2 separate regions of the Homo sapiens genome follow, and region 1 is linked to region 2. The links come from fine-mapping of genetic effects on gene expression. A gene starts in region 2. The other region holds a variant in brackets. All regions are shown on one strand. Distances are from middle to middle.

Region 1 (11,958 bases), 19 kb after region 2:
GGCTCATGCCTGTAATCCCAGCACTTTGGGAGGCCGAGGTGGGCGGATCACAAGGTCAGGAGATCGAGACCATCCTGGCTAACATGGTGAAACCCCCTCTCTACTAAAAATACAAAAAATTAGCCAGGCGTGGTGGCTGGTGCCTGTGGTCCCAGCTACTGGGGAGGCTGAGGCAGGAGAATGGCGTGAGCCCGGGAGGCGGAGCTTGCAGCGAGCCGAGATCGCGCCACTGCACTCCAGCCTGGGCGACAGAGCGAGACTCTGTCTCAAAAAAAAAAGATTTTAGTCTACCTGAATTAGCCCGATAAGGAAGTCCCCTCTGCTTTAACACTTACCAAAAAAAGTAACCTGAAGTTAATCAGGTTTTTCTTTTTCTTTCTTTCTTTCTTTCTTTTTTTTTTTTTTTTTTTTTGAGATAGAGTCTAGCTCTGTCGCCAGGCTGGAGTGCAAGTGGCACGATCTTGGCTCACTGCAACCTCCACCTCCCCGGGTTCACGCCATTCTCCTGCCTCAGCCTCTCTGAGTAACTGGGACTACGGGCGCCCGCCACCACACCCGTCTAATTTTTTGTATTTTTAGTAGAGACGGGGTTTCACTGTGGTCTCGATCTCCTGACCTCATGATCCGCCCACCTCGGCCTCCCAAAGTGCTGGGATTACAGGCGTGAGCCACCGCACCGGCCTTATTATTATTATTATTTTTTAAGATATTCTGTAGTTATGGATTGGAAAAATCCATATTGTCAAAATGTCCATACTACACAAAGCAACCTACAGATTCAATGCAATTTCCATCAAAATACAATACCAATGACATTCTTCACACAAAACAGAAAGAACAGTTCTAAAAAACAGTCCTAAATTTATATGAAATCACAAAAGACCTTGAATAGCCAAAACTATCCTGAGCAAACAGAACAAAACTGGAGGAATCCCATTACCCAACATTCAATTATACTATAGATCTACAGTAACAAAAACAGCATAGTACCAGCACAAAAATAGACACATACATAAATGGAACAGAATGGAGAACCCAGAACCAAATCCATACATCTACATTGAATTCTTTTTTACTATTATTATACTTTAAGTTCTGGGATCCATGTGCAGAACGTGCAGAAGGTGCAGGTTTGTTACATAGGTATGTATACACGTGCCATGGTGGTTTGCTGCACCCATCAACCGGTCATCTACATTAGGTATTTCTCCTAATGCTGGCCGGGTGCGGTGGCTCACGCTTGTAATCCCAGCACTTTGGGAGGCCGAGGCGGGCTGATCACGAGGTCAGGAGATCGAGACCAAGGTGAAACCCCGTCTCTACTAAAAATACAAAAAATTAGACGGGCGTGGTGGCGGGCGCCTGTAGTCCCAGTTACTCGGAGAGGCTGAGGCAGGAGAATGGCGTGAACCCGGGAGGCGGAGCTTGCAGCCAGCCGAGATCGCGCCACTGCACTCCAGCCTGGATGACAGAGCGAGACTCCGTCTCAAAAAAAAAAAAAAAAAAAAGAAGTTATTTCTCCTAATGCTATCCCTCCCCTATCCCACCCTCTGACAGGTCCCGGAATGTGATGTTCCCCTCCCTGTGTCCATGTGTTCTCATTGTTCAACTCCCACTTTCTTTTTCTTTTTTTTTTTTTTTGAGACAGTCTGGCTCTGTCACCCAGGCTGGAGTGCGGTGGCGCAATCTCGGCTCACTGCAGCCTCTGCCTCCAGGGTTCAAGCGACTCCCCTGCCTCACCCTCCGGAGTAGCTGGAATCACAGGTGGGGGCCACCACACCCAGTGGTTTGTTTGTTTGTTTGTTTGTTTGTTTGTTTGTTTTTTGAGACGGAGTCTCGCCCTGTTGCCAGGCCGGAGTGCAGTGGTGAGATCTCGGCTCACTGCAACCTCCACCTCCCGGGTTCAAGCGATTCTCCTGCCTCAGCCTCTTGAGTAGCTGGGACTACAGGCGTGTGCCACCGTGCCCAGCTCATTTTTGTATTTTTAGTAGAAACGGTGTTTCACCGTGTTGACCAGATTGGTCTCAATCACTTGGCCTCATGATTCGGACGCCTTGGCCTCCCTAAGTACTGGGATTACAGGCCTGAGCCACCTCGCCCGGCATTGATCAGGTTTTTTTTGTATTGTTCTGTTTATTTGTCCCACTTTACGAAACTCACTGTTCTCCTATTGCCCAGGGGGACATGTCATTTTATCTATTCTCAGTAACTCATGCCTGTAATTCCAGCACTTTTGGATGCAAAAGTGGGCGGATTGCTTCAGTACAGTTCAAGGCTAGCCTGGGCAACATAGTGAGACCCTGTCTCTACTAAAGAGGAAAAAAAAACAAAACCTTTCTTTAAATAAAAGTTTTAAATTGGGGGAAGGAAGGAAGAAGGCTCTATCTCAAAAAAAAAATCAGAAAACCATGAAGGGTGTCCTCTGACTGGGCAAATTTTTGTTGTAAAAACCCATATTGTAGGCTGGGCATGGTGGCTCACTCTTGTAATCCCAGCACTTTGGGAGGCCGAGGCAGGTGGATTTGAGATCAGGGGTTCAAGACCAGCCTGAGTAACATGGTGAAACCCCGTCTCTACAAAACTACAAAAAATAGCTAGGCATGGCGGCGGGTGCCTGTAATCCCAGCTACTCATGAGGCTGAGGCAGGAGAATCGCTTGAACCTGGAAGGCAAATGTTGCTGTGAGCTGATATTGTGCCACTGCACTCCAGCCTGGGCAACAGAGTAAGACTCCGTCTCAAAAAAAAAAAAAAGCCATATTTCAGTTTTACTTTTTACAGGCCAACAAATGGCATGATTGTGTTTCAATGACGTTTGGCTTATTCTATGACCTGAAAATTATATGAAATGCAAATTTGTGTCCATAAGTAAAACTTTATTGAAACACAATCATGCCATTTGTTGACAAAAAGAGTGAAACTCTGTAAAATATGGGCCGGGCGCGGTGGCTCACGCCTGTAATCCCAGCACTTTGGGAGGCCGAGGCGGGCGGATCATGAGGTCAGGAGATCGAGACCATCCTGGCTAACACGGTGAAACCCTGTCTCTACTAAAAATATAAAAAATTAGCCGGGTTTGGTGGCGGGAACCTGTAGTCCCAGCTACTCGCCAGGCTGAGGCGGGAAAATGGCGTGAACCCGGGAGGTGGAGCTTGCAGTGAGCCAAGATCGCGCCACTGCACTCTAGCCTGGGCCACAGAGCGAGACTCTCTCAAAAAAAAAAAAGAAACTCCGTAAAATATTTAAAGAGGTTAATTCTGAGCCAAACGTGAGTGACCACGGCCCTAGGCACAGCCTTTTTTTTTTTTTTTTTTTTTTTTTTTTGAGACAGTCTCGCTCTGTGGCCCAGACTGGAGCTATCTCGGTTCACTGCAACCTCCACCTCTCGGGTTCAAGAGATTACCCTGCCTCAGCCTCCCGAGTGGCTGGGATTACAGGCGCCCACCACCACGCCCCTGGCTAATTTCTGTATTTTTAATAGAGATGGGGTTTTACCATGTTGGCCAGGCTGGTTTTGAATTCCTGACCTCAGGTGATCCAGCTGCCTCCGCCTCCCAAACTGTTTGGGATTACAGGCGTGAGCCACTGCGCCTGGCCAATCCCCACCTTCTTGACTGACCATTTAAAAAATGTAAGAAACACCTTTAGCTCATCATGAGCAGCACAAAACAGGCAGGGACAGGATTTGGCCCTGAGGCAGGAGAATAGGTCTGGAGGCAGGGAACATAAGGCCAAATCAAATGGAAACAATTCAGCTATGACAGGAAATATCTTCTCCATTTAAAGAGGGCATACATCCAGTAAATGACTTTGTAACTTTACTTCATCCTCTTCATTTACATAGGACGTACATTAAGTAACCAGTGAAAACCTCTAGAGGGCATTTAAACCCCAGAAAATTCTTAAACAGGTCTCTTGAGTCCGTATGCTCCACTGGCTCCCACCCTGCGGAGTGTACTTTCGTTTTCAATAAATCTCTGCTTTTGTTAAGCTTCATTCTTTCCTTGCTTTGTTTGTGCACTTTGTCCAATTCTTTGTTCAAGATGCCAAGAACCTGCACACCTTCAACAGTTAACAGCCCACAGGCAGTAGTTTGCGACTCTAGTAGAGAATGCATAGGGATTTCCATTGAAAATCATTTTTTAAGCCAGTTACGGTGGTTCACGCCTATCATCATCCCAGCACCTTGGGAGGCCAAGGCGGGTGGATCTCTTGAGGTCAGGAGTTCGAGACCAGCCTGGCTAACATGGCAAAACCCCTGTCTAGACCAAAAATACAAAATTAGTTGGGCGTGGTGGCCCGTGCCTGTAATCCCAGCTGTTTGGGAGGCTGCGACACGAGAATCGCTTGAACCCGGGAGGGAGAGGTTGCGGTGAGCCGAGATCGCGCCACCGCACTCCAGCCTGGGTGACAGAGCGAGACTCCATTTCAAAAAAAGAAAAAAAATAATTGTTCCCTACGGGAACGGTATAATTAGGATATAATTGTTTCTGGCCACAGATCACATCCCTTCTGGTTAAGTCCAGGAGAATCTGGAAATACGTAGGGCAACCAGGCCAGAAGGCGTTGTAACTGCCTAAGATTGACCAACCCTAACGCGGGAGGCGGGACGACGGTCACTGATTTGCCAGCGTGACGCCGGTCTGCGACTGGCCAGTGCCGTCCTGGGCGTGTCGGTAGGACGGGGCTGCGACGGTTTCCCATAGGCTGGCACAGAAAGGGGCGGGGAAACAAGAGTGCAACGTTACCAATCGGCATGCGGGACGTAACGCAATTCTTTTTTCCGATTGGTCCGTGAAGCTCGGGAGGTCGTTGGGGGCTCGACCTTGGGATAGAACGCCTGCCTTTTATTGGTCAATACTCTTCGGGCCGGGCAATGTGGCTCCCCGAGGCTGCCTGCGATTGGTGAACGCGTCGCGGCTCGGGGCGGACCTGCGGACTGAAGATCCTTATGCGATTGGCCGGGGAGCCGGAGGGGCGGGCAATTTGGGATCGACAGTGACTCGCGACTGGTCGGCGCGGCGAAAGCAGAGCGGCGCGCCGGTTCCTTGGTTCCTGAGGGCGATGGCGCGGGGTGGCTGGCGCCGGCTACGCCGCCTGTTATCCGCGGGGCAGCTTCTATTCCAGGGCCGCGCGCTGCTCGTCACTAACACGCTGGGCTGCGGCGCGCTCATGGCGGCCGGTGATGGCGTGCGCCAGTCCTGGGAGATCCGCGCCCGGCCCGGCCAGGTTTTCGACCCACGGCGCTCCGGTGAGGACGCCACGCTGCTTAGTCCTTCACCCCGGGCGACCTTTGATCCCGACACCCGACTGCGGGCCGTGACCCCTGACCCGTGGCCTCAGTCCCCCGCAGGACCCTTGCCCTGACCGCGCCTCTCCCCGGGTGTCTGTCTCCCCGCAGCTCTGGGTCTCCATCACCTCCCAACCCCCGGAGGTCTCTGCCCACTACCCAGGAGCCTCTGGAGCCGCGCCTCCTGGTGGGGCTTGTAGTGGAAGAATGCACGGGTGGGCTCTTCCGGTTTTCCCGGTGAGGCTGAGGCTCCGGGATGGCATTGGGCTTACCCAGGCCTTAGCCAGGGAGGGAGAGAGGGAATGGACTGAGGAACTTGCCGGCCCGACCCAGCCCCCTGACTTACACTCTTATAGCGAGCATGTTTGCGGTGGGCTGCAGCATGGGTCCCTTCCTGCACTACTGGTACTTGTCGCTGGACCGCCTATTCCCTGCGTCTGGCCTCCGAGGCTTCCCAAATGTCCTCAAGAAGGTCCTCGTGGATCAGCTGGTAGCCTCTCCATTGCTGGGCGTCTGGTACTTCTTGGGTAAGGAGCCTCCTAAGCCTAGGCTTTGCCTCTCATAGGTCGGGAGGGGTGGAGCCAGCTTTGTGTTAAGAAGGATGCAGAGGTGCATTTCCAATTTGCCCCCTGTTTGGGTCGCCCTGGACTAGGAGCCAGGTCACAGCGGGGACAGGACGGACTCGGCCGATGTGAACGCTGGCGAGTGTAGGAGGGACGAGGACTGTATCTGTTGGGGCTGCCCTGGGCGGGAGGTTGAGAGCATTTCCCAAAGAAGGGGACCACACTCAGTTGAGACATGAAGAGGGAACCAGCGGGCAGAGGGAACAGCTAATGCAAAGGCTCTGAGGCCTGAAGGAAGAGAAATTGAGGCTAGACTTAATGGGGTGCAACCGTGCCAGCCCTAGGCTCGGTAAAGACAGCGGTATTAATAGAGGAGTCTCTCATTCTCCACCTCCCAGCCCGGCTTCCTGGTCTGTGATGGAAAAGTAACACAACTCCCTCAACTTCAGGGTGTCTCCATTGGGGCACGTGTTTATATGTTTATAACCTCTCTTTCTCTCACTGGGACTGACTTGCTCTGTTTTGTCTCTACACCAGCTACCCTAATTCTCTGTCCATCCCATCTGAAAGTCCCTGTCCCTCTGCCCGGGGTGGGCGGCGTGGGCTCTCAGGGGCCCAACCCCGCCCCCTCCATCGTCAGCCCATCTTGTCGTCTCAACAGTACTTCCTGGCCTCTAACACTCTCATTTCTTGGTTTGCTTCCCAGGCCTTGGCTGCCTGGAGGGTCAGACAGTGGGTGAGAGCTGCCAGGAGCTGCGGGAGAAGTTCTGGGAATTCTACAAGGTGGGAGCACCCGCCCCTTGCACATGTCCGGCCCCGCCCCCTGATGGCCGCTCCGCCCCCGCCCAGCTCTGGCCCCGCCCCTCATCCCCCGCCTCTCCCCGCAGGCAGACTGGTGCGTGTGGCCTGCTGCGCAGTTCGTGAACTTCCTCTTCGTGCCCCCCCAATTTCGAGTCACCTACATCAACGGCCTGACGCTGGGCTGGGACACGTACCTGTCCTACTTGAAGTACCGGGTGAGTGTGGAGGGCATACCAGGCACCCAGGGGACTCCCCAGGGGGCTACACGTGTGAGCTCCAAGTGGCAGTGTAGCCAGCCACCCTGGAGGGTGGGAGTCTCCTGTGCTCCTGACAACCCACACCCAACAGTGGGCTGGCGGAGAGCTCCTCACTAGCAGTTAAGACCCAGCCGTGGCTGAGCGCCGTGGCTCATGCCTGTAATCCCAGCACTTTGGGAGGCCGAAGCGGGTGGATCGCCTGAAATTGGAGTTAGAGAGCAGACTGGGCAATATGGTGAAACCCCTTCTCTACTAAAAATACAAAAAATTACTGGTACGCACCTGTAATTCCAGTTACTTGAGAGGCTGAGGCAGGAGAATTGCTTGAACCCAGGAGGCAGAGGCTGCAGTGAGCCAAGATCATGCCACTGCACTCCAGCCTAGGTGACAGAGCGAGACTCCGTTTCAAAAAAAAAAGACCCATGCCGGGCGCGGTGGCTCACGCCTGTAATCCCAGCACTTTGGGAGGCCGAGGCAGGCGGATCACGAGGTCAGGAGATCGAGACCGTCCTGGCTAACATGGTGAAACCCTGTCTCTACTAAAAATACAAAAAAAAAATTAGCCGGGCGTGGTGGCGGGCGCCTGTAGTCTCAGCTACTCCGGAAGCTGAGACCGGAGAATGGCCTGAACCCGGGCAGCGAAGCTTGCAGTGAGCCGAGATCGCGCCACTGCACTCCAGCCTGGGCGACAGTTCGAGACTCCGTCTCAAACAAACAAAAAGACCCAACCCTTCTCTGCTGTCTGATGTGACCTCAGCCCGGTCCCTGCCAAGTCTGTTGAGCAGGGCTGACCTCTGGCCCAAGGGCAGGTAGAGGGACAGGGAGGGATGAGCCAGGCTTCTGACCAGATGCCTTGTCTTGTGTGGACAGAGCCCAGTTCCTCTGACACCCCCAGGCTGTGTGGCCCTGGACACCCGAGCAGACTGAACTGTCTGCTTCCTGGACCAGATGCAAGACTGTCTCCTGGCGGACCACCCCCTCTGACAGAAGGGGAATGGGCTCCTGCAGCAAGCTCGGGTCTTGAGCCACGTCCCAGCACCACTTCAGCTCCGGAGCATTGGGCTGAGCCGCCCTTTCCAAGCTCACTTCTGGGACTGAGTTTCCTCAACCGGAACACACCCATGAAGATGGATGATCATCCCCTAGCCCTTCTCAGCAGGAACCTCATGCGACCTGTGACCAAGATGTCCCATCCTCAGCACAGGGCCCACTCTGCCAACCAGTCTCAAGCACCAGCCCCTCAACACTGCCATCCACCTGGCTCTGGGCCAAGCCACCAATCCAGAGCTCCCTCAGGTCCTGGGACTAAGGCGGGGACATGACTGATCCCCTCAGAGCAGGCTCAGGCCTGGAGTCGGCCCCCAAAAGTTTCACATAGGGCCAGGCAGCCTCTGTGTTTCTTTCCCTGGTCCTGAACTGTGGAAATGCCATTAAACTCTCTCTATAATGTAACTGAAACTGCTGGCTGGGCGCAGTGGCTCCCACCTGTAATCTCAGCCCTTCCCGAGGCTGAGGTGGAAGGATTGCTCGAG[G/T]CCAGGTGTTCGAGACCAGCCTGGGCAACATAGCAAGACCCTGTCTCTATTTATATTGAAAAATAAAAATAACAAAAGAAAATGCTGTGGATGATCAAAACCAGGGTGGGCAGGACCCGGTGCTCACAGGGACACACATGGATGGTCCATTCGCTTTATTGGGTGCGTGTAGTGTTGTCATGACATCTCCTAAGGAACTGGGGGGCACGTTTGACACTCATGAGGTCAGAACAGGTCTGGTGGGCGGGGGGGGGGGGGGTCCCAGGGTGGTGAATACCCACAGCACACCCCCCCACCAAAAGAGAAAACGGGGAGAGGAGCCTGGCAGGCCAGACTCTGATCCCCATGGTCCACACAGGGAAACCCCCAACAGCGGCCTCGGCCCACCGCGGCAGAGCCGAGGGGCTGGCAGGCCTGGCCACCTCCCATTGCCCGATCAGCCTGCTTTAGGGTGTCATCTGGCCCCTCTTCACAACTGACAACTGTGGATGGGGGTGAATTTTAAAAAAAGGCGGGGGGGGGGGGTTCAGGAGGGTGAGCGGTGAGTTCACGGGGCCACGAGACACCACAGCTGAGTGGGGAAAGGGCTATATGTACAGGAGGGGCAGGGCTTGGGGCGGGCAGGGGAGCCTGGGCCCCTGGGGGACATCTTCAATAAATAAATAAATAGCTACAATAATAAATAAGGGTGACGGGCTAAGTCAGGAGCAGGGGTCTTGTGCCCGTGGCTGGTAGGGGCCGGGTCAGGCCCGGGTAGTTGGGGGAAGGTGGGGAAGACAGGGAAGAGGGGAAAGGGAGTGGGATGGCTCTCAGCAGGCGCAGTCCTGGTGCGGTGGCACCTGCTGGTCACTGAGCTGTGGGCCCTGCTTGGCGCCTGTGACCGCAGGGTCCGCCGTGTCCAACGACTCGGACATCTTCTCGCAGATGACATCCACCAGGCGCTCAAAGGTCTGCTTGACGTTAATGTTGTCCTTGGCGCTTGCCTCAAAGAACTCGAACCCTGTGGTCAGAGAAGGCAGGGATGAGGACCCTGGCCACGCCCTATGCCAACTCCCAGAGATGCTTCTCTGAGGAAAGGGAACACCTGGAGATTCCCAGTGCCAAGCAACTTATTGAAGGTACTGACAAATCCCACAGAGAAGAAACTTATTGAAGGTACTGACAAATCCCACAGAGAAGCAACATGGAACTGGGTCAGCTTTGCATTTCCTGCTTTTTTTTTTTTTTTTTTTTTTTGAGACAGGGCCTTGCTCTGCTGCCCAGGATGGAGTATGGTGGCGTGATCATAGCTCACTGCAGTCTCGACCTCCTGGGCTCAAGTGATCCTCCACCCCCACCTCTCAAATTGCTGGGATTATAGGTGTGAGCCAGCGCACCTGGCCTCCTGCCCTTCCTTCCTAAAATTGTGTCTCGTTGTCCTTAGGGACCTGGCAAGACATGCCCTGCAGCGTCCAGCCCAGCCCCGTGCACTGGCCCTGGAAGGCTCTGACACTCAAATCCAGCTGTGACCTCCCCCTGCTCACACACCCTCTGTGACTCCCTATTGCCCTCCAAAGAGTCCCAGCCTCTCAGCACATGGTTGAGGCCCTCTGTGATCGGCCACATTTCCTCCAGCTGACCCTCATGTTCCAGTCTTGTGAAATTATTACCAAAACACACAGGACCTTTCTCACTGCAAGCCTTTGCCCAAGCTATTTCCTCTGCCTGAAAGACCCTTCTTCACTACCCACCACTCCAGGAAGCCTGGCTCCTCTCATGTGCTCCTCCCATCCAGGTCCCTCCCTCTACCTCAGGGGTCCCTCGAGGCACCCCTAGATGCCTCTTGAGCCCAGCAACACCCAACAAAGCGTTGGACGGTGAGTGTCAGAATAAATCCTTAAACTTTCTGCATGGCAAACTCCTACACATCCCTCAGGATCCAACTCAAATGGCTCCTGGATGAAGGCTAGTTTGCAGAAAGTGTGAATTACCTGGCTTTAGCTGTAAGACCTTGGGTGTGTGCCCTCCCCTCTCTTAGTGTCCTTTTTCTAGACTTGTGGGTCTCCAGCCCAGCTGGGCACTCACCAAGGTGGTCAGCTAGCTGCCGGCCACGTTCTGATGACACCACCCGCTCATCCTCCATGTCACACTTGTTTCCTACCAGCAGCACCTGGGCATTGTCCCATGAGTAGGTCTTGATCTGGGTGGACCTATAGGAGGCACCAATGGGGGCAGGTCAGGGCTTGGAGGATCCCAGCTCCACCCTGACGGGCTGATGTGGAGCCTGTGTCCTTGTCCGAGGAAGAAAGACCCAGAAGCTTGCCCCTCCATCCTCCCCACCATCCTTTCCCCCAATGTGCCCCGCTTTCACCCCACTCCAGCCCCCGACTGACCCATTATTGTTTCTGTGTTTTGGGGTTTTTTTTGAGATAGAGTCTGGGTCTGTTGCCCAGGCTGGAGTATCTGCCTGCCTTCGCTTCTCAAAGTACTGGAATTACAGGCATGAGCCACCCAGCCCAGAAATTTTCTTTTTTTGAGATAGAGTCTTGCTCTGTCGCCCAGGCTGGAGTGCAGTGGCGCGATCTAGGCTCACTGCAATCTCCGCCTCCCAGGTTGAAGTGATTCTCCTGCCTCAGCCTCCTAAGTAGCTGGGACTATAGGCATGAGCCACCATGCCTGGTAATTTTTTGTGCTTTTAGTAGAGACAGGGTTTCACTATGTTGGCCACGATGGACTCGAACTCCTGAGCTCAAGATCTACCCACCTCGGCCTCCCAAGGTGCTGGGATTATAGGCATGAGCCACTGTGCCCAACCCAGAAATTTTTTTTTAAAGTTATTACTTCTGAGCAGAAAATTGAAATGTTTACAATCTCTAACCTATGCCAACTCTCCTTTTTTTTTTGAGACAGAGTTTTGCTCTTGTTGCCCAGGCTGGAGTGCAATGGCAATCTTGGCTCACTGCAACCTCCACCTCCCGGGTTCGAGCGATTCTCCTGCCTCAGGCTCCCAAGTAGCTGGGATTACAGGTGTGCGCCACCACGTCTGGCTAATTTTTGCATTCTTAGTAGAGATGGGGTTTCTCCATCTTGGTCAGGCTGGTCTCGAACTCCCGACCTCAGGTGATCCACCTGCCTCAGCCTCCCAAAGTGCTGGGATTATAGGTGTGAGCCACCGTGCCCGGCCATGCCAACTCTCCTTATAGTCTCTATATTCTCCACCCTACACTTGCAGATATTTGTTTCTATATGGTTATAGTTTTACTTTTCCATCTGAAATCCTTCTCTGACCCCTACGTTTTATTTATTATTTTTTGAAGAAAGTTTGGCTCAGAGACAATGGCCCCAGAATGAGTGTGGAAGGCCAGAAGCGATGGCTCACGCCTGTAATCCCAGCACTTTGGGAGGCCAAGGTGGGCAGATCACTTGAGCCAAGGAGTTCAAGACCAGCCTGGGCAACATGAGGAAACCCCATCTCAACTAAAAATACAAAAAAATTAGCCAGGTGTGGTGGTATATGCCTGTAGTCCCAGCTACTTG
Region 2 (11,356 bases):
GCCCTGCCCACCGCAGGTCCCCCGGGGTCCCGGAAGCCCCTTCTGGCTGCACCTGCCATGTTTACAGAGGGCCCCTGGGCTGCGCGGCCCCAGCCTGGGCACCCTGATTTTTAAGCCATAGACCTGGGGTCAGGGCAGGAAGGAACTTCACTCTGCTGCTTCCGAGAACCTCGGCCGTGACATTCGGGGCCGGGCGGGACCCGCCCCACAGACTCCAACTTCCCCTCCAAACCCCGAAGTGAAACCCGCCACCGGGTTACCCCCACAAGGGGGCCGCTGCGAGAAGTTCACCCACCCCCGAAAAAATAATTAAACTCGCAGGCCAGGCACGGTGGCTCATGCCTGTAATCCCAGCACTTTGGGAGGCCAAGACGGGCGGATCTTTTGAGGTCGGGAGTTGGAGGCCAGCCTGGCCAAAATGGCAAAACCCCGCATCTACTAAAATACAAAAATTAGCCGGGCGTGGTGGCGGCCGCCTGTAATCCCAGCTACTTGGGAGGCTGAGGCGTGAGAATCTCTTGAACCCAGGAGATGGAGGTTGCAGTGAGCAGAGATCGTGCCACTGCACTCCAGCCTGGGTAACAGAGGGAGACTCCTCCGTCTCAAAAAAATAAATAAATAAACTTGTGAGCTGGCCCCAACCCCTCCTAGGAATCACAGCTCCCCGTACTGGTGCCGCCGCAGTGGCCAAGTTGCGACACTGCCCACGGCCCCTCCCTCTGATGCAGATTCAGGGCTTCTCTTCGATCATGTTGGGTTTTGATTCTGTTTTTCCTTGACTGCAAAACCCTCTTTCCTCTCCTCTTTTGGGACAAGAGCCCTGGTTTTCTACGCTGCCCTTGGCCACCACACTGCCTGCCCCACGAGCTGGGAGGCAGGTTTTGTACGGTACGTTGTTATTGATATGATATAAAACATCAAACGTCGTGGGTGATTCTGTTGTCAGTGACTGGGCTTCAGTACCACCTCTGCGTGTCGGGGACCCTGGTGTCTACGGGGGTCACAGCAGGTCGGACCCGTGGGTTTAACTCCAAGCCCCTCTGAGACCCGACAACCCCTCCCTCCCCCAGTTTAGCTGCTCAAGCCTGGAGAGGTTGAGGCAGTGCCCAAGGTCATACAGGAGAGAGATTCGAATCCTGAGCTCCCGACTGCTCAGGGGACCCCAGACCCCATCCAGCCCCTCAAGTGCTTCCAAGCTGCTTCCCCCGCCCACCGCCCCCAAATTTGAATCCTGTCGCAACCATCAGCTGTGTCCTTGGGAAAGTTGTATCCCCTCCCTGATCCACAGCTTCCTCATTCATTGCCAAGTGGCGTCAAAAGTCAAAACCCTCCCATGCCACAGGGAGGAGTCTCCCGTGTCTTTGATGTTCTCAAGTCGTCGGCACCTCCAGCCAGCATTGGAGGCTCTTCTCTGACCTCTCCTCACCCACTCCCATGCACAGCCCGCCGGGTCCCAGGAGACGCTGAGCAAAAGCCCTGTGGGGTTTTTTGTGTTTCTTTTTAAAGAGTCAAGGTCTCTCACTCTGTCACCCAGGCTGGAGTGCAGTTGTGCGAACACAGCTCGCGGCTCACAGCCTCAAGCTCCTGGTTCCCAGCCTCAAGCAGTCCTCTCATCTCAGCCTTTAGAGTCACTGGATTACGGGTGTGTGTCACCATGTCCAGCTAATTATTTTTAAATTTTTTTAGAAACAAGATCTTGCCGAGTGCAGTGGCTCACACCTGTAATTCCAGCACTTGGGGAAGCCAAGGCAGGCAGATCACTTGAGGTCAGGAGTTTGAGACCAGCCTGGCCAACATGGTAAAACCTGGTCTCCACTAAAAATACAAAAAAAAATTAGCCAGACATGGTGGCGCATGCCTGTAATCCCAGCTACTTGGGAGGCTGAGATAGGAAGATCAGATGAACCTGGGAGGTCAACGCTGCACCAAGCCAAGATCGTGCCACTGTTCTCCAGCCTGGGTGACAGAGTGAGACTCTGTCTCAAGAAAAAAAAAAAAAAAAAGGGTCTTGCCCTTTTCCAGGTGGGTCTCAAACTCCTGGCCTCTAGTGATCCTCCCACCTCAGCCTCCCTGAGTCGCGTAAGCCACCACGCGTGGCCTCATGGCGTCTTTGACTTGGACTCCTGTTTACCACCCTCCCCATCACACCCAGAATCCACACCCCCACTGCGACGTCATTGTCCCTTCAGCCCTCCCCAACCCTGGGGCCTCACTGTCCTTGTCTGTTTTGTACAGCCACCTCTCAAGGCCCAACAAGGCTGAACCTGGGGCAAGTGCAGAAAGAAACCTCCACTCTGACCCAGTCTACTGCTGGGACCTTGGGACAGGACCTGCCTCCCTTAGCCTCAGAGCCCCCTAGCCTTGCCAGGCACTGTCCCTGCCATGTGTCCTGTCTGGAGATAACCCATAAATAACTCCAGCCCAGATTGTGCCTCTCACTGCATAGGTGCTCACAGGAGAAAGGTTGCCATCTTTATGATCCCAGCTATGCTGAGCTGGGGGTGGAAGAGAATATCCCGTGTGGTCTCTAAAAACACTCAACCACTGGCTGTGTGTCCTTGGCAAAATAGCCTTCCCTCTCTGATCAGCCATTTATTTGTTACCAGCTGGAGTCAGTAGCACCTACCCCCAGCCCCAACTGGATGCTTCTGAGGGTTCAATGATAAAATGGGTTGTAGGCCCACTCTATGCCTGGCACCAAGCCAGAGAGCAATACATTGTAGGGTTACATTTATGATTTCTTCCAATAGGGCTGGTGCCTGGTAACTACTGGAAAAATTGTAGCAATTATATTTATGGTTATTTCTTCAATCCCACCCGGCATAGGGTAAGCACCAAAGTTGGGGTGGTGAGTCTTGGGGAGCCTTTGCCAACGGTTTGGTCGTCTGAGGGATGGGCTCGGGGACCATCCAGCCACTGGGACTTCAGAGAAGCTCCGGCTCCCAAACCAGCTACTGTGTGTGTGGCCAGGGTCTTCCCCACAACTAGAGGGGGGCACAGCTGGGGACTCAGGTATATCTTCCAGCTGGGTGTGGGACATTTTCTTCCCTAGGATCCGATGTGTCTTGCCCTGAATGTAAGGCCTGGCAGGGTTGGAATGTCTCAGTTATTCCCCCAACACTCCAGCCTCCATCTGGGCCTTTTTTCCAGGCTATTCTCTCTGCCTTCACTGTTGGGGCCACTGTCCTGTGTAGGCACCAAGGCCTGACCATGCCATCCAGAAGCCCCAGCCTGGGACAACTCTCCCCCACCTGCCTCTGAGCCCTCCATGGTGACTCTTGTTCCCCAAACCTTATCCTTCTCCCCATTACACAGAAGGGAAAGCTGAGGCTCTGTCACTCAAATCCAAAGCCAGGTGGACTCCAAGCCACCCCACCCCTATCCCAGACAGCACAGGCTGCCTCTCTCCCCCATGGGCGTCCCTTGAAGGCCAGGTTGCCCCCCACCCCCCACAAGCCTTGAACGATGAAAAGAAGGAAGGCCAGTTCTCTTCACCCCAAGCCAGAAGTGGGGCTGGGTGGGTACCCTAGAGAAATGACACGCCACTCCCTGCGCCAGCTTCTGCTTTCCGGCGTGGCTGTGGTCAAGCCTGAGTCAGTCCCACGGGACCACGGTGAGGGGTCTGGAGCGTCGGGGTCAGGAGTTTGAGGGGGGAAGGGTTGAGGGGCAGGATGTGGGGGTTGGGTGTGAGGGAGGTCACGGGCGAGACTGGAGGGAGGAGACCTGGCCACACAGGCCTTGCCCACTCTCGGGGGCCTGAATATTTCAGTTACTCCCCCAAAACCCCGGCCTCCATCCCATCCCCAGCCTCCATCCGACGTCACCCCTGTTAGGTCACAGGCCCACTCTGAGAGTGGGTCTCGGGCCTCAAGTCCCCTAGCCGCCCCTAGAAGGTCTAGGGGTGCGTGGAGACACCACCATTCCTCTCAGCCTGTGTCTGTCTCAAAGGCCCCACCTCACCTCCCCTAAAGGTAGTCTTGCGCCAGGGCTCACGTGCCTGGGCAGGGCTGATTGCCAAGGGGCCCAATGGCCTCGTGACTGGGGACCCAGCACCTGGCAGGGGTGGGGGTGGGACACTCAGAGGAAGGAGTGGAGGAGGGAGAGACGCTGGCCCGGGACCCGAGGGGCGTGGGCATCGGGAGGCGGGCCCGGGTTAGGGGCGGGACCGCCGCCTGGTTAAAGGCGCTTATTTCCCAGGCAGCCGCTGCAGTCGCCACACCTTTGCCCCTGCTGCGATGACCCTGTCGCCACTTCTGCTGTTCCTGCCACCGCTGCTGCTGCTGCTGGACGTCCCCACGGCGGCGGTGCAGGCGTCCCCTCTGCAAGCGTTAGACTTCTTTGGGAATGGGCCACCAGTTAACTACAAGGTAGGGACGGCGACAGGGCGGGCAGGCTGGAGGGAACAGGCGCCCTGTCGGGGCACGCGGCTCCTTCTTTCTCCCCAGACTTCACAGGGGAAGACCAGGGCCCCGAGGGGACGCTGTCCCTGCCGGGTTCCTGGAAAAACCCTGTTCAGTTCCCGGCGCTGCGGCCACACTCCCTCCGTGCCGTTTCGCTTTCGCATCCCGCATCTGAGAGGCGCAGCTGCCTCCACCCGCCTAGTCCCGCCCAAGGGTTCAATGAGCGCCTACTGTGTACTTTTGGGGCAGGAGCTGGGGTCTCCTTTTGTGGCCCAGGGCACAAGTTCAGCAGCTGGCCAAGGGCCGCCGGCATGCATTCTTGCTGCTACCCTTGATGCATTCATTCCAGCCAGGGCAGGGCTCGCGTGTCTTTGGGACCTATTAGGCAGATGCCCTAGAGGCTGAGCGACTTGCTCACCGCTCCAGCGACATGGGCCACCCGCCACCCCTCAGCTGAAGCCGGAAGTCAGCACCTATTAGGTGCCGCCTCTATTCAGTCGGACTTGGAAAGGGTTCACGTGGATCCCTTGCTCAGCTCAGAGGCAAGGTCTCCAGGTGAAGTGACAAGAAATGAGCATGGGCCAAGGCCGGAGGCGGTGGCTCATGCCTGTAATCCCAACACTTTGGAAGTCTGAGGCAGGCAGATCACGAGGTCAGGAGTTCGAGACCATTCTGGCCTACATGGAGAAACCCTGTCTCTACTAAAAATACAAAAATTAGCTGGGTGTGGTGGCATGTGCCTATAATCCCAGCTACTCAGGAGGCTGAGGCAGGACAATTGCTTGAACCAGGGAGTCGGGTGTTGCAGTGAGCCGAGATCGTGCCGCAGCACACCAGCCTAGCGACAGTGAGACTCCATCTCAAAAAAAAAAAAAAAAGTCTCAAAGTCAAGATTCCACCTGGCAAGTTCTGGAAGGCGTGCAAGATGAATTGCGTATCACAGCCCCCTTTCTACAAGACTACCAAGTGGGGTTGAGAGAAGTGGGGAACTGCCCAGGGCTACACCTGCCTCCCACGCCTTCCTAATCCACAGACAGGCAATCTATACCTGCGGGGGCCCCTGAAGAAGTCCAATGCACCGCTTGTCAATGTGACCCTCTACTATGAAGCACTGTGCGGTGGCTGCCGAGCCTTCCTGATCCGGGAGCTCTTCCCAACATGGCTGTTGGTCATGGAGATCCTCAATGTCACGCTGGTGCCCTACGGAAACGCACAGGTGTGTGGGCGCTGGGGAAACTGAGGCACGTGGGCAGGGGAGCAGGGGACCCAGCCTACCAGCAGGCTCTCACCCTGCTGCCTTGCAGGAACAAAATGTCAGTGGCAGGTGGGAGTTCAAGTGCCAGCATGGAGAAGAGGAGTGCAAATTCAACAAGGTGGAGGTGAGCGGCCCCAGGGCCCCACACTGGGGTGGGGGAAAACTGTCCCACGTACAGGAGGCAAATACGAGGATGCCAGCTCTGTCTTCTGCCTCGTGTGCTCCCATTTAATCACATCTTTATTCCCTATCTCCTGGGTGGGTACTGGTGATTATTACGAGAGGGTGTCAGGGTACCCTAGGCCCTCTTCATGCCCTCTCCTGCCCCCTCTCCAAACCCCAGGCCTGCGTGTTGGATGAACTTGACATGGAGCTAGCCTTCCTGACCATTGTCTGCATGGAAGAGTTTGAGGACATGGAGAGAAGTCTGCCACTAGTGAGTGACGCCCCTCACTCCACCCAAGGAGGGGGACATGGGTGGTAACCTTCCCTGCATCCAGGCAGACCCAAATTCAAGTCCTAGCCCTGACCACTGCTGTCTGTGCAGCCCAGGAAAACAACTACCCTTCTTTATTTTATTTATTTTTTTATTTTTTCTTGAGACAGAGTCTCGCTCTGTCGCCCAGGCTGGAATGCAGTGGCGCAATCCCAGCTCACTGCAACCTCCACCTCCAGGGTTCAAGTGATTCTCCAGCCTCAGCCTCCTGAGTAGCTGGGATTACAGTTGTGTGCCACCATGCCCAGCTAATTTTTGTGTTTTTAGTAGAGACAGGGTTTCACCATGTTGGTCAGGCTTGTCTTGAACTCCTGACCTTGTGATCCGCCTGCCTTGGCCTCCCAAAGTGCTGGGATTACAGGCGTGAGCCACCGCACCCAGCCCTTTTTTTTTTTTTTTTTTTTTTTTTTTTTTTGAGACAGGGTTTTGCTCTGTCGCCCAGGCTGGAGTGCAGTGGTGCAATCTTGGCTGACTGCAACCACTGTCTCCTCAGTTTAAGTGATCCTCCTGCCTCAGCTTCCCCAGTAGCTGGGACTACAGGTGTGCACCACCATGCCCGGCTAATTTTTGTATTTTTAGTAGAGACAGTGTTCACCATGTTGGCCAGGCTGGTCTCAAACTCCTGACCTCAAGTTATCCGCCTGTCCCAGCCTCCCAAAGGATTACAGGTGTAAGCCACCACGCCCGGCCCCAGCCTCCCCTCTTGAAGCCTCCATCTCTGAATCAGGGGAATGAATGCAGGTCTCTTAGGAGCATGAGTGATCACAGAGGACTTACTGGAGGAGGCATTTCTGAGCTGGGCATGGAAGGATGAGCAGGAATGTGCAGAGACACAGATGATGGGATGTGGAGATGATAGGACAGACCCCACCTACTTCCCCGGGGGATTGTGAAGAATGACTCCCAGAGAAGTGACTCATTGGCTCCAATCATTTATTCATTCATCAAACATCCGGGTCACCCAAGAGGCCTCACCTAGTGACACCCTAGTCCTGCAGGGTTAGATCAGGGCTGAGAGAGTGGCAAGGAGAGGGCACTGAGGAGACACTGTGGAAGGAGGATGAAGGGTGTTCCTGGCAGAGGGATCAGCCTGTGTGGAGGTCCTGAGTAAAGTGAGATACTATGGGGGTCAGAGGCAGTGGGTCTGGTCTTAGGGATGAAACCAAGGGAGCTAGGAGGCAGGAGCAGCCCAAGCCCTGCCTTAGGGGCCTCCACTCAAGCATGTATTGAGCACCTGCTGTTTGTGGGCTTTGTCGCATCACTGTGAAGCCAACTGTACCCTCTTCTCAGTGACGAAACAGGCTTGGCTCAGGGCTGGTGGGCGGGACCGTTGAGATAACGGGGAGGAAGCTGAGGCAACCCCCTGCTCCCCACCCACCCAGTGCCTGCAGCTCTACGCCCCAGGGCTGTCGCCAGACACTATCATGGAGTGTGCAATGGGGGACCGCGGCATGCAGCTCATGCACGCCAACGCCCAGCGGACAGATGCTCTCCAGCCACCACACGAGTATGTGCCCTGGGTCACCGTCAATGGGGTAAGAATCTTTTTAGCCCTCAGCTTGACACTCATAGTCCCATGGAGTCAGGGATGGACAAGACAGAGGGACCAGAGATAAAGGAACCCAGGCGGAGGTTGCAGTGAGCTGAGATCATGCCACTGCACTCCAGCCTGGGCAACAAGAGCAAAACTTGATAGCTTTGCATAGGGAAAGAGGGCATTGATGCTGGGGTTTTGAAAGGTGAGTAGGAGTCCATCAGGCAAAAAAAGTATGTATTAATTCGAAGTATTAAACATCCCTAGCCACCCCCATTGGGAAAGATGTGCCACTGATTTGCGAGGCGGGAGGCGGGGGCCAGACTTGGGAATATGTGCAGCCCTTTCTGGGCTGGAACCAGGGTGCATGGGTTGGGGTAGCTGCTGGGAATATGCGACCCCTGTCTTGCTTTGTGCAGAAACCCTTGGAAGATCAGACCCAGCTCCTTACCCTTGTCTGCCAGTTGTACCAGGTAAGCTGGGAGGGGAGCAGTGGGATTCAGGTGGTGGGGGTAGGGTCTCCTTCCAGGACCCCAACTCATGGCCTTCACCTCCAGGGCAAGAAGCCGGATGTCTGCCCTTCCTCAACCAGCTCCCTCAGGAGTGTTTGCTTCAAGTGATGGCCGGTGAGCTGCGGAGAGCTCATGGAAGGCGAGTGGGAACCCGGCTGCCTGCCTTTTTTTCTGATCCAGACCCTCGGCACCTGCTACTTACCAACTGGAAAATTTTATGCATCCCATGAAGCCCAGATACACAAAATTCCACCCCATGATCAAGAATCCTGCTCCACTAAGAATGGTGCTAAAGTAAAACTAGTTTAATAAGCCCTTCTGGATGGTGTAATTAATTTGATAAGTCAGCCATTCCCCCTTCCCCAGGCCTGGCAAAACCCGCTCTCTACTAAAAATACAAAAATTAGCCAGGCGCGGTGGCGGGCGCCTGTAATCCCAGCTACTTGGGAGGCTGAGGCAGGAGAATTGCTTGAACCCGGCAGGCAGAGGTTGCAGTGAGCCGAAATCGCGCCACTGTGCTCCAGCCTGGGCGACAAGAGCAAAATTCCATCTCAAAATTTTAAAAAAGTGACTGGTTGTGGCCGGGTGAGGTGGCTCACGTCTATAATTCCTGCACTTTGGGAGGTCAAGGTAGGAGGATTGCTTGAGGACAGGAGTTTGACACCAGCTTTGGCATGAAAGCAAGACCCTGTCTTTACAAAACATGAAAATAAAAAGAATTAGCAGGACATGGCAGCGAGCAACTGTGGTACTCGGGAGGCTGAGGCAGGAGGATCACTTGAGCACAGGAGGTCAAGGCTGCAGTGAGCCATAATTACACCACTGCACTGCAGCCTGGGCCAGAGAGCAAGACTCTGCCTCTTTTTTTTTTTTTTTTTTTTTTTTTTTTTGAGACGGAGTTTCGCTCTTGTTGCCCAGGCTGAAGGGAAACGCGTGATCTCGGTTCACCACAACCTCTGCCTCTTCAGTTCAAGCGATTCTCCTGCCTCAGCCTCCTGAGTAGCTGGGATTACAGACACATGCCACCACGCCCAGCTAATTTTGTGTTTTTAGTAGAGACAGGGTTCTTCCATGTTGGTCAGGCTAGTCTCGAACTCCTGACCTCATGATCCATCTGTCTCGGCCTCCCAAAGTGCTGGGATTACAGGCGAAAGCCACCACACCCAGCCAAGACTCTGCCTTTTAAAAGAAAAAGAAGGGAAAGAACATGTTCAGTGTTGTATTTTTTCCTACTGATGGACTGGTCAAATCATAGATGTATATATTCTTCCTTCGAGGAAGTGAGGCTTAATTCCACTCCCTACAAATATCTTTGTTTCTCTTTATTTTGAGATGGAGTCTAGCTGTGTTGCCCAGGCTGGTCTCAAACTCGTGGGCTCAAGCGATCCTTCTTGAGGATCCTGAAGTGCTGCGATTATAGACGTGAGCCAGCGTGCCGGGCCCTACAACCACCTTGACAGTGAACTAGATTGAGTAACTTGATTCCAAAGAGTAGAACAGGAAAAGTGAAAAAGAATACCCCGGCTGTGCGCGGTGGCTCAAACCTGTAATCACAGCACTTTGGGAGGCTGAGGTGGGTGGATCACTTGAGGTCAGGAGTTCAAGACCAGCCTGGCCAACATGGCGAAACCCTGTCTCTACTAAAAATACAAAAATTAGGCTGGATGCGGTGTCTCACACCTGTAATCCCAGCACTTTGGGAGGCCCAGGCAGGCAGATCACCTAAGGTCAGAAGTTTGAGACCAGCCTGGCAAACATGGCAAAACCCTGTCTCTACTAAAAAATACAAAAGTTGGTCAGGCGCGGTGGCTCACGCCTGTAATCTCAGCACTTTGGGAGGCCGAGGCGGGTGGATCACAAGGTCAGGAGATCAAGTCCATCCTGGCTAACACGGTGAAACCCCGTCTCTACTAAAAATACAAAAAACTAGCTGGGCGTGGTGGCAGGCACCTGTAGTCCCAGCTACTCGGGAGGCTGAGGCAGGAAAATGGCGTGAACCTGGGAGGCGGAGCTTGCAGTGAGCCAAGATCATGCCACTGTACTCCAGCCTGGGCGACAGAGCAAGACTCTGTCTCAAAAAAAAAAATTTAAAAAATACAAAAGTTAGCCATGCGTGGTGGTGCACGCCTGTAATCCCAGCTACTCCAGAGGCTGAGATGGGAGAATGGCTTGAACCCGGGAGGCAGGGGTTGCAGTGAGCCGAGATCACGCCACTGCTCTCCAGCCTGGGCAACAGAGAGAGACCCCATCTCAAAATAAATAAATAAATAAATACAAATCATCAAGTAGCAAAGGTGGCATGTTTTGAGGTGGCACGTCCTGAACTTCCTCATTCCCTGGCTGAATTGGTGGTGGAGAGAAATTCAGGGTAGAAGTTCTGAAGTAACACATCTACAGAAGGGGTAGAAAAAGACAGATTAGAACAAATAGAAAGGAATAAATATAAGCACACTATGCCAGATATTGTCGAATCAGTATCTTTGTCCTGAGAATAGGTTAGCTTGGTTACACACTTGTATCTCATTTTATTTTATTTATTTATTTATTTTTTGAGACGGAGTTTCGCTCTTGTTACCCGGGCTGGAGTGCAATGGCATGATCGTGGTCTTGGCTCACCACAACCTCCACCTCTGGAGTTCGAGCGATTCTCTTGCCTCAGCCTCCCAAGTAGCTGGAATTACAGGCATGCGCCACCACACCCAGCTAATTTTGTATTTTTTTTTTTTTTTTTGAGACGGAGTTTTGCTCTTGTTGACCAGGCTGGAGTGCAATGGCATGATCTCGGCTCACTGCAACCTCCGCCTCCCAGGTTCAAGCAATTCTCCTGCCTCAGCCTCCCGAGTAGCTGGGATTACAGGCATGCACCATCATGCCCGGCTAATTTGTTGTATTTTTAGTAGAGACGGGGTTTCTCCAAGTCGAGGCTGGTCTCGAACTCCTGACCTCAGGTGATCCGCCCGCCTCGGCCTCCCAAAGTGCTGGGATTACAGGCGTGAGCCACCGCGCCCAGCAATTTTGTATTTTTAGTAGAGACGGGGTTTCACCATGTTGGCCAGGATCGTCTCCAACTCCCGACCTCAAGTGATCTGCCTACCTCGGCCTCCCAAAGTGCTGGGATTACAAGTATGAGCCACTGCACCCAGCCTTGTGTCTCATTTT

Evidence for each region. PIP is the estimated chance that this variant, and not a neighbour inherited with it, causes the effect.
Region 1: its variant is fine-mapped to the expression of IFI30 in whole blood (TOPMed, PIP above 0.99).

The regions. Positions count from the first base shown.
Region 1 is chr19:18,188,219-18,200,176 of GRCh38, forward strand. It overlaps MPV17L2 (MPV17 mitochondrial inner membrane protein like 2), which reads left to right and starts at 5,000. Exons shown (of 5, transcript NM_032683.3): 1 at 5,000-5,250; 2 at 5,646-5,816; 3 at 6,559-6,635; 4 at 6,740-6,868; 5 at 7,781-8,730. The coding sequence starts at 5,064. The coding sequence ends at 7,837. RAB3A (RAB3A, member RAS oncogene family) reads right to left here. Exons shown (of 5, transcript NM_002866.5): 4 at 10,507-10,631; 5 at 8,566-9,442. The coding sequence ends at 9,252. RefSeq lists a silencer at 4,525-4,704 and an enhancer at 5,095-5,144. The variant G/T (reference allele first, on the strand shown) is at 8,443.
Region 2 is chr19:18,169,607-18,180,962 of GRCh38, forward strand. It overlaps IFI30 (IFI30 lysosomal thiol reductase), which reads left to right and starts at 4,207. Exons shown (of 7, transcript NM_006332.5): 1 at 4,207-4,367; 2 at 5,434-5,616; 3 at 5,705-5,779; 4 at 5,999-6,091; 5 at 7,534-7,686; 6 at 8,105-8,158; 7 at 8,243-8,511. The coding sequence starts at 4,236. The coding sequence ends at 8,305. It overlaps PIK3R2 (phosphoinositide-3-kinase regulatory subunit 2), which reads left to right. Exons shown (of 16, transcript NM_005027.4): 16 at 1-926. RefSeq lists enhancers at 1,305-1,524, 4,572-4,641, 4,769-5,434 and a silencer at 3,952-4,261.